Regions from separate parts of the Homo sapiens genome. Here region 1 is linked to region 2. The links come from fine-mapping of genetic effects on gene expression. A gene starts in region 2. The other region holds a variant in brackets. All regions are shown on one strand. Distances are from middle to middle.

Evidence for each region. PIP is the estimated chance that this variant, and not a neighbour inherited with it, causes the effect.
Region 1: its variant is fine-mapped to the expression of BORCS5 in prefrontal cortex (BrainSeq, PIP 0.92).

What each region holds. Positions count from the first base shown.
Region 1 is chr12:12,462,588-12,467,946 of GRCh38, forward strand. It overlaps BORCS5 (BLOC-1 related complex subunit 5), which reads left to right. Exons shown (of 4, transcript NM_058169.6): 4 at 2,959-5,359. The coding sequence ends at 3,189. Among named protein-coding and RNA genes, the nearest start is that of DUSP16, 98 kb to the right of the region's middle. The variant C/T (reference allele first, on the strand shown) is at 3,322.
Region 2 is chr12:12,354,669-12,360,039 of GRCh38, forward strand. BORCS5 (BLOC-1 related complex subunit 5) reads left to right here and starts at 2,410. Exons shown (of 4, transcript NM_058169.6): 1 at 2,410-2,841. The coding sequence starts at 2,784. LOH12CR2 (loss of heterozygosity on chromosome 12, region 2) reads right to left here and starts at 2,399. Exons shown (of 2, transcript NR_024061.1): 1 at 2,260-2,399; 2 at 740-2,137. RefSeq lists enhancers at 2,195-2,873, 3,760-3,839 and a silencer at 2,740-2,819.

The sequences.
Region 1 (5,359 bases), 110 kb after region 2:
ACAGCTTCGTGGTTGCCCTTTAGCTCCAGCTTGGATGGTTAGATTGCCCTGTCTGAAGCTGGATTTATTTTATTTTATTTATTTTTGGAGATGGAGTCTCGCTCTGTCACCCAGGCTGGAGTGCAGTGGTGCGATCTTGGCTCACTGCAACCTCTGCCTCCTGGGTTCAAACGATTCTCCTGCCTCAGCCTCCCAAGTAGTTGGGACTATAGGCGCACACTGCCACGCCCGGCTAATTTTTTGTATTTTAATAGAGACGGAGTTTCGCCGTGTTGCCCAGGCTGGTCTCGAACTCCTGAGCTCAGGCAATCCGCCCTCCTCAGCCTCCCAAAGTTCTGGTATGAGCCACCACGCCTGGCCAAGCTGGGTCTTTTGAATGGCTATGGGTGCTCAGTGAGGCAACCCTAGGTGATATCATAACACCTCTGCTTATCCAGAAGACAATTAGTATATATGTTATCTTGTTAGAATCCATGTGCCAAAAATAGAAATAGGAAAGGCAAATAAGGATATATCCCTAGATTGTCAAAATGGTGATTCAGAATTGTGTGAGATACTGGTTTACTGCCTACAGTCACATCAAATGTGTTACAATGAGCATGTGTCTGGGGGTTCGTGGAGTAAAGGTAGGGATTATGGATCAAGGACAATGTTACCTCAAGAGCAAAGGTCAGAGACATCAAAAATAGGCATCAACAGTTTTACCATCCTTTTCCAGATAGTCCATTGTTGCTTGCACCAAGTTGAGACTTTCTTTGCAACAAAGAATGGGGGAAACATTTAAAAGGTAATAACTTTCCCTACATGTGATCTAGTCTTCTTTAATGCAGTGCCACGTGCCAACAAAAGTCTCATAAAGCACCAGTGATACAGGGTCTTGCTCAGGAAATATGTGTAAAAGAGGGGAGCTGCTGGACTTCGGAGAGCTGGGGTCCAGTGTAGGTTCTGTCACTGTGAGATCTTCAAAGTCACGCAAACTCAAGTTTCCTCTTGCGGTTTTTTTCTTCCATGGAGCATAATGGAAGTAAGACATGATGTCAGCACGCATGAACAACCTGTTTGAACTCAGTGTGCTCATCTCAGCATTAACAGAAAGTGCCTTTACAAAAGCTTTGGAGACATTAAACACGGGCCCCAGCTGGATGTGGAAACATGTAGGGAAGTACATGCCATTTGACAAGTACCTGTGAAGATGGCTGTGAACAGTCTTCATCAGGTGTGAATCGGGGATGGATTGACTGCCAAGGACTTTAGACTTGATAAGTTAGAGCCTTGGAGGCCATTTCAGATAGAAACTCTTCAAGCATCTATCTAGTCTGGTAGGGTTGCGGGGTGGAGGGCCAGGAATGCCCTGCCAAGTAAAATGTGATGCCCGAGAAGGTTCCCAATTCAGGATTCCACCTGGCTCCCACGAGCCCCGCTGTCTCTCAGGTGTGTGGAGTGTTTCTCAGTGCTCATTGCAAGGCCACCCTGAAAAGGCCCAGCGGGTGACTGTCAGGACCACAGGACTCTCCTGGCTCACTACTTCCAAAGTGCTGAGCGCCAGACAGGGCTGCAGAGAACCCCGGAAAGTGTGCATTGTTTCCACATTATTTGGAGTTTCTCACTCCCATGTTTTTTTTTTTTTTCTCTTCTCCTTCTCCCCGTGCCCAACTAGCTGCTCCTCCTGCCCTGCAGGCACTCAAGCAAGAGGCCCGCCAGAGGACAGCAACACTGATGTGCTTCGGTCGCCTCCCGCCCCTCCTGCCCTCCCCACAGATGATAGCAAAAGGGAAATTATTTTTTCTTGGGGCTGGCTTTGGTCCCCCGTGTTTTCATGAGTTTGTTTTTGTGTCTCTCGAAGCCATTTTCAGAGGCTCTCTGGTACCGGGTGTTGAGCCCTTGTCCTGATGCAAGGTCGGGAAGGGGCGTGCTCCAGGAATAAACCAGAAGGAAGGGCTGGAGGAGCCTGGGAACCTTGGGATAGGAGTGTGGGCCTCAGTAGTTGAGCTGTTTTCTCCTGGCCTGGGAAAGAAACAAGGGGTGAGGGGGTGGAAGTGGGGTCCATGCTGAGGAAGGGGTGCAAGTGCCCAACACGATGGCGGTCTCTCTCTCTATTTTTATCTGGGTGATGGGTACTAAAGAGCCTCTGTAAGGGGAAGAGAAGAAGTCACGCAAGGGCAGCCCAGAGCCCGCAGTTTCTTTAATGGGGGAGAAGGGCACATGAGATAGTCCTCACAGTTTGACAAATGTGGTGTGTTGTAAGGACGGGAGCCTTGGTTGCATTTTTGGCCCTGGCAGGGAGAGCCTCCCTTCCATTGCAGTGTTCCCCGAGTGTCCGCCAAACTGCAGCCGTCCAGGGAAGAGAAGGATTGAGTGAAGAACATGCATTTTGGGGTTTGGGATTTTTGTTATTGTTGTTAGAAACAGGGTCTCACTGTGTCGCCCAGGCTGGAGTGCAGTGGCATGATCATGGCTCACTGCAGCTTCGACCTTCTGGACTCAAGCCATCCTCCCACCTCAGCCTCCCAAGTAGCTGGGATTACACGCACACACCACCACGCCCATCTGCTCCTAGTTTTTTTCTAGATAAGCAACCTGAGACACAAAGGATAAGCATTAGCAGCTCATACACGTGACAGAGCCAGATTCAGCCTTGGCCTGACTGATTTCCACATCCAGAATTCCCCTCATATAGGGAGATAGAAATCTCAGGATCTCAACAAGGTACAAATAACGCACATTCCCAGAACATAGAGCCAGGGACAGTCCCCTCTCAGTTCTCTTCTAAAGGTGGTTCTGGCACAACAGTTGATAAAGCTGTGTCCCTGAAGGGCTTTTTAGCCCTGGGTGCTTCCTGTAAAACTTGTCAGCTTCCACTGGATCTGCGGGACTGTGTCCCTCACAGGCTGGACACCCGGCCCTGCGGAGAGGACTTGATTAAACAAGGTATAATGTACTTCTCTTTCCCATCCACAGATGGATCTGTCTGTAGAAACTCTGTTCAGCTTCATGCAGGAGCGCCAGAAAAGATACGCCAAGTATGCCGAGCAGATCCAGAAAGTGAACGAGATGTCCGCCATCCTCCGCCGCATACAGATGGGCATCGACCAGACTGTGCCCCTGCTGGACAGGCTCAACAGCATGCTGCCCGAGGGCGAGCGGCTGGAGCCCTTCAGCATGAAGCCCGACCGCGAGCTCAGGCTGTAGCTGCTGCCCGGCCTGCCTGGGGCTGGGAGCCCCAGACACCGACACCCTGAGGACGTGTGGAGCTAAGGTCATATCATCTGACCAGGTCTGGAGGCTGGCGGGAGGCTCCCTGAAAGTGGGTGCGAAGGAGTC[C/T]GGCTGGCATGAAAATCTGACTTTGCCCAGCTCTTTTCCTTGATGCAGTTTCCCGGTGTGGAAGGAACCTAACCAGTTCTCGGTGATAACTGAAGCTGGAACGTGTGAATTATTAGGAATTCTTTGAAGAACTCTGCATTGAGAATTATTTTTATTTAGTTTTTTTTTTTTTTTAATTGAGAGTATATAGTCCAGTCCAGGTACCGGAATAAAAATATGGAGACAAGGGGAAAATATTTTACGAAGCTCTGTGTTCTCAACGCCCTCATGAACTTTTCAGTAGGCTGTCTGGTTTATGTGTGGTCAACTTGAAAAACTAATTGAATCTAGGTCTCTGTATTGTTCCTGTTTCTACCCTGACTGTTTCCGTCACACCAAGCCCTTATCTGGGGCGCGTCTTCCTGCCCAGGTGGAACACTGGCATTTTGTTGACTGTCAGGTTAGGTGTCCCTTAGTCGTCATCAGAAGCTGAAGCCTTCCTTTCCACACCCTCATCAGATTCATCTCCACTGATAACCGGTTTCCTTGATGCAGACATAGTTTAGCTTTCTTTGACTGCAGAGATGTCTCATTCCACAGACATTTCTTGAACCCATTTGATGTGTCCAATATTGTGCCAGGGATACAAATATGGCCGTATAGCCTCAGGCCTTCATTTCTGAAAAGAAAAAAGCTCAAAAAGCTGCTGAATTTCTCTGGGAGTTTAGGAAAGGAAGTTATTTGAGTAACAACAAAAGTGCTTAGTGTCGTACTTTACACATCATAGGTGTTCTAATGGAAGCAAGGACTGGAGAAGCAAAGAGTGGAATGTGAGGAGCAGACCTAGGCAGACACCTTGAGACTAAAAGTCAGAGCTGAAGGGAGTCGCTGGGGCCAGGACGGCATGCAGGCCTGTACCCTGTTCCCTAAGTTCCTGCAAGCGTCGGGAGGTGTGTTTTCAGATACCAGAAAGAGCCTTCAGTAGATTCACAAGATTAAAATTGATGCGCTTAATTTAATGTATCTTGGCTAAACTTGATCTGATTCTAATCTTGGTTTGAGACAGGGTCTTGTGCTGTTGCTCAGGCTGGAGTGCAGTGGCGCAATCATAGCACACTGACTCCTCAAACTCCCGGGCTCCGGGGATCCTCACGCCTCAGACTCCTGAGTAGCTGGGATTACAGGTGTGTGCCACCAAATCCAGCTAATTAAAAAAAATTAATTAATTTTACATTTTCAAATTCAAAAGAATAATACAATGAATATTCATATTTCTTTCACCTAGATTGACAAAAAGTGGTATATTTAAGACATCACCATCATTGTCTTTCTTCTGGAGTATACAGAACCTGGTTCTGAACACAGGGATATGTTTGTAGCTTCGAGGAATGAAGGGCTGTTTACAGAGCTACAAAAATAGCTTAGGTGCCATTATCCTCACTGCACTTAATACAGGTGACACATGAAAGCACAGAGTGGGTGGCAGTTCAAGCCTGCGAGGGCCGAGCCTTTCCACTGCTGCAGCTGTTAGTGGCTGGCACAGGGCAGGATGGCAGACCTAGTGCAGCACAAACAAACCACGCAGTCAGCCAGCTCTCCAGCCAACTGTGTCTACTTCTAAAGTAGAAGTTAGACAAAACATGGGGTTCACTTAGACTGGGGTCCTGAGTAGGTGATAGGCTACTTATTACTGGGTGGAAGCGGAGAAGTATGGCAGAAGAACAATAGGCAAATTCAATACTCCCGGAAAGAATTCTAGTTAGTTTAATATTTTGATGGCATGTTGTGGTTTCTGCAGTGTCGTGAACTTGGCTAAACTGAACTGTGTTCCCAGAATTCCCTTCCTTGTTTGTTTCTCTGGTGAGGGTTGGCCACGAGAGAGATTTGCATGAGGTTTGGAAGTGGAAGTAGAGCAACAGCCATGTGTATTCACTGGAAGTGGATGTAGGTCAGGCCCTGTTCCATCACGTGCACGTTACCATGGATCTCCTGCACTTGTGGTGTGGGCAGCCGCTGGGCCCACGGCTCCTCCCACTCCCGCAGAACTCTGCCTTTGGCT
Region 2 (5,371 bases):
TTATGGATATGGAATTTGTATACCATACAATTTACCCTGGTAAAGTGTACTCTACAGTGGTTTTTAATATATTCAGAGTTGTGCATTCATCATTACAATTTTAGAACATTTTCATCAACCCCAGAAAGAAACCCCATACCCAATAATAGTCTACATTTCCCTTCCACCCGTACCCCTCCTCGGCCTTAGGCAACACTAACATATTTCTCTCTCTGTAGTGCTTCTCCTGGACATTTCATATAAATGAAATCTACAATATGTGGTCTTTTGTGATACGCTTTGTTTTTTTTTTTTTTGAGACGGAGTCTTCGCTCTGTCGCCCAGGCTGGAGTGCAGTGGTGCGATCTCTGCTCACTGCAAGCTCCGCCTTCTGGGTTCAAGCGATTCTCCTGCCTCAGCCTCCTGAGTAGCTGGAAATACAGGCGCCCGCCACCACGCCCGGCTAATTTTTTTTGTATTTTTAGTAGAGACAGGATTTCAGTTTGTCAGCCAGGATGGTCTCAATCTCCTGACCCCGTGATCCGCCCGCCTCGGCCTCCCAAAGTGCTGGGATTACAGGCGTGAGCCACCGCACCCGGCCTGACAGGCCTTTTTCATATTGAATAATGTTGTCAAGGTTACTCTATGTTGTAGCATGTATCAGTATGATTTCATCCTTCCCTCATTTTGGCTGAATAAATATTCCATGATTACCACACTTTATTTATCCATTCATCAGTTGATGCGACAGACTATCCTTTTAAGAATGAAATGTTTATTCAAAAGGAAGCATAAAAAACACCATCACATCAGTATGGACTGGTGTATGGAACACAAGACAAATATACTTTTATGTGGAAAAGGGGAAACAAGAACCAGAATGAGTTATTCTCCATTCCTCACCCCTTTTACCTCCTCTCTCACCTTCCCCTCAAAGAGGAAATCTGGGAGGGGATGCAAGGACTCTCCAAAAGGGAATGGTCTCACTGCTTAGTGGGCCCTTCCCAGTCCCATCAGCCTGGTGTGGTTTATGTAAACCTCAAGACTAGTTAGACACAACTTTCTAGAAGCCTGCCCTGATCTCTCAGGCAGTTTTTAGTTCTATCTTCATATTCCCAGAGAACACTGTACTTAGATTCATTTGCATTTTTCTCATTGTATTGCAATGGTGAGCAGAGGAAAGAGCATCAGATAGTCCTAAATAGTTCGACCACTGACCACCTGCTGACCATGGAGGAGTCACCTACTTACAGGCTGCAGGGTTGTTGTGAAAATTAAATAAGGTAAAATAGGGGAAATTATTGTGATATAGTAGAGTGGAAGGGACTTAAAAATCATTTAGTCAACTTGACACTTCTTCTGAGACTTTTTTTTTTTTTTTTTTTTTTGAGACGGAGTCTCGCTCTGTCGCCCAGGCTGGAGTGCAGTGGCGCGATCTCGGCTCACTGCAAGCTCTGCCTCCCGGGTTCACACCATTCTCCTGTCTCAGCCTCCCGAGTAGCTGGGACTACAGGCGCCCACCATCATGCCCGGCTAATTTTTTGTATTTTTTAGTAGAGACGGGGTTTCACCATGTTAGCCAGGATGGTCTTGATCTCCTGACATCGTGATCTACTCGCCTCAGCCTCCCAAAGTGCTGGGATTACAGGCGTGAGCCACCCCGCCTGGCCAGAGACTACATTTTATACATATAAAATCTCAAGGCATTTACTTGAAATTTCTTGACGCAGACAATGTAATATAAAATGAGTTGCAAAGTTCGGAGAACGCTAGAGCCAGCTAACTCCTTGATGGCATTGCATTGCTAGGTCTACTTTCTTGCCCTAGCAAAAATGGCAGTTTCCTTTCTGGATTACTCCCTCCTCACCTTCTGTTAGTTTCAGAGTGACTTGTTGATAACTGCCAAGGTCCCCAGAAAGCGCCTAGCCAAAAAGGTTCTTCACTTCTCTTTAAAGATGTGCACTCCCTAATACATGAAACAGCATTTTCTATTTCTTAATTTTTCTCTCATTTCCAGCTGCTGCTTTCACCGTCTTCTGGTATTTTTTTGTTTGGTCGTCCACTGCTAAACTCCCAGCTCTTCAGAATTCAAAATGAGCTTTGCATCCAAGCTGTTGTGGGTTCGAATCCTGGGTCTATCTAGCGTTTCTTTCTCCATCTGTAAAACAGGGTTAAAAATACCTATTTTGTAAAGTTGTTCTCACATGTGGGTATTGAAGAGCTTAATAGTGTGGGTGGTGTTTTAAAGGTGACGCATCCTTACAACAGGAAAGGGCTTACCCTCTTCCGCAGTTCTGGCTTCGAGGAGGTCAAGCCCTTTAAGGTGGCATCGCCCTAAGTCGCAGGAGCGGGTCTCTCCGCCCCTCCCTCGGGCCGGGGGGCGGGGCCTCCTAATCCGGAACTGAAGGTCTTGCGTAGCCGGCACCGCCCATCTGCGTCCCGGAAGGAGCGAGCTTGCGGAGCGTGAACCAGTGAGTGAAAGCGGCGCCGCCCGCCGGCCGCAGGTGCGGCAAAGCCAGTGTCATCTGCCGGTTCTCTTAGGGCTCCCGGAAAGAAGGAGGGCTAGCCGCGTGCGTTCGCGCCGCGCCTCCTTGCGTTTCTGTTCCCCAAATAGGGCCTCTCCTTCTCCCGCCGCCCAGGCCCCTGCGTGGGCTGGACGCGTCAGCCCCACACATTAGCCTCGCTGCGGCGCCCAGACTCTGCTTTGCCTCCCCGTCCCGGTCCCTGGCCCCTGCCCTGTCGCCCGCCGCCGGAGCGGTGACCGCCCGGCCCGCCGTTCTTCTGCTGCCACCGCTGTCGGCACCATGGGCAGTGAGCAGAGCTCCGAGGCCGAGAGCCGACCCAACGATCTGAACTCCTCAGGTCGGTGTCCTAACCTCCCACCCTCCTCCAGCCCGCCCTGTCCCCTTGCAGAGCGGGCTGCCTCCCAGACTAGGGTCAGGGACTGCGGACGGGAACGCACAGAAAAAGCCTTCACCGTGCTAGTAGGAAAAAAAAAAAGTCACCATCTGTCCTGGCCTCGATTCCCCTGATGGAAGTGCGTGTGACTGCAAGCTAAGCCAGCGTGGGCGCCAGTGCCCTTATTTATTTTCAAAACAGCCGTTTCTCCCAGCTACAGCCTCCTGTTTAAAAGACGAGCTAATTAATTTTTGGCTCTAGTGCTCATGGCTGATGTAGTGAGATTTGGCTCACACAGTGGATGGATTATAGGACCTCTAAGAACAGTCTGTTTCTTAAAAACGGGTGTTAGAGGTTCCTTTTCTGAAGGGATATGTGATAGGTGTCCACTTGCTTTGAACCCTTTAGTGCAAAGGTCTCCAGAAACAGCTTTTTCTTCTCAGAAGGTGTCTTGGTCCGTTTTCTAATCTTGTAGAGGTTGGCCAGACAGCAGGCACTGGTGTTTTCCATTGTTGTTCTCTGTCCATGATTTTTAGACTTCTCTAAGCGTTTGAGACAAGAATGGGAGGATTATTGTGTTTGCAATACAGTGAGTGTTCAATAAATAGATAAAGCAGCTGATGTTTAATTGAGGACCATTTGCTGCTTTTTTTGTTACCCACACGCTAGGACAGCTGGGAGTGCTTTGGTTAAGCTCCGGGGTTGCTAACGCAAATTGGTTAAATCTGGGGCCTAAAAAGAGTCGCCGATTTTAGAAGTTCTCTGTTCTTGATAGGAGCTGTAATTCAGAAATAGGCAAGCTAATAGATCTAAGGGTGTTTCACTTTAAGGTGTGACTTTCAAGACTAGTTCAGACCTACATTCTGGGGACTGGATTGGGGCAGCTTTGAATGGTGAGCAGCATCTACTAGCTTTGCTACGTTTTTCTATTTCCTTGGAAGGGCCAGAGTGTCATATCTGTTATAAGAAATATAATAATTGCCACCTTTGACATTCTTGCCTCTATGGCAGGGCAGAAACATATTTTAGGGGGAAGCGGTGTGGCATCTTTTTAATTTGTTTTCTTGCCCATGAACCAACAGCATTCGAGCATTTCCGATGTTAGAATTTGCCTATTCCCCTGTGCCCGGTACTTTACATACATTTACATATAATTTTTGCAGTAATCCCATTTTACAGATAAAGTAGTAGAGGTTAGCTAGAGTGTTTTGAAGTCCCCTTTCCTCTGGTATCTGGGGAAGGAGGAATCACAATTTATAGCAGGAAAGATTTCTGGCATGGCTTTTGTAAAATGTTAGGTAAATTACCAAAACAGGTAAATAAATATTTCTTGAAAAGAAATAAAAGCAGCAGAGATTTTTCTAGAAGAGTGAATGCCAAGCCTCCGGAGACGAGCTTCTAGGAGGCAGAACAGTTCTATGGCATCCCTGGATTAACCTTTGAGATATGACTATAATGAGCCTGGGAATATTACCTTCTAGAGCATAAAACACTTTAAAGATTCATTCTTGTCCCAGTCTGGAAGATATTTGGGGGAGAGGATGATTTCTTGGTCTAGGGAGTCCTTTATAATTTGAATCACTTCCCTCCAAATGGATTACTTTCTCCCAAGGAACCTGAATTGATCTCCCTCTTTGTCCTCCAAATTTCTGATTTTTGCCTCAGCCTAGAATGGACTTACTGGCTATTTTTGCCCTGGACTAATGCTATAATTTTAAGAGTGAGGGGGCTGTAGTCCTAGCTACTCAGGCCCAGGTGGGAGGATTGCTGGAGCCCAGGAGTTTAAATCCAGCCTGGGCGATGTAGTGAGACTTGACTCTTTTTTTTTTTTTTTTTTTGAGACAGTCTCACTGTCACCTAGGCTGGAGTGCTGTGGCATGATCTTGGCTCACTGCAACCTCCGCCTCCCGGATTCAAGCAATTTTCCTGCCTCAGCCTCCCAAGTAGCTGGGATTACAGGGACATGCCACCACGCCTGGATAATTTTTGTATTTTTAGTAGAGATAGGGTTTCACCATGTTGGCCAGGCTGATCTCGAACTCCTGACCTCAAGTGATCCACCTGGCTTGGCCTCCCAAAGTGCTGGGATTACAGGCGTGAGCCACCGTGCCCAGCCGCCTTGACTTAAAAAAAAAAAAAAAAGAGTGAGGAGGCTGAAGCCTCGGGAATAGGCCAGTCATTCGGGGGTTGAGAACAGGTTTTTTTCCTGGACTTACTAAACATAGCTGGCTTGATGTGGTAGGGTGGATAGACAGCTTTGCAACTCCAGTGTCGCAGAGATGGGCCTTGTGTACCAATAACTTGTAGATGTCTAATTCCTTTCCTAACTGTCTAGCACTGCTGACTTTGGGCAAGTCACAGTTAAATTTTGTACCCTTTATTTCTCATTTTAGAAATAGGGAGATATATATATATATCTCAAGATAGCAGGAGAATTAAAGAGAAAGTAAAAACAATCTGCCTATACTTTTGTGTGCTGAAAAAGAAAATATTT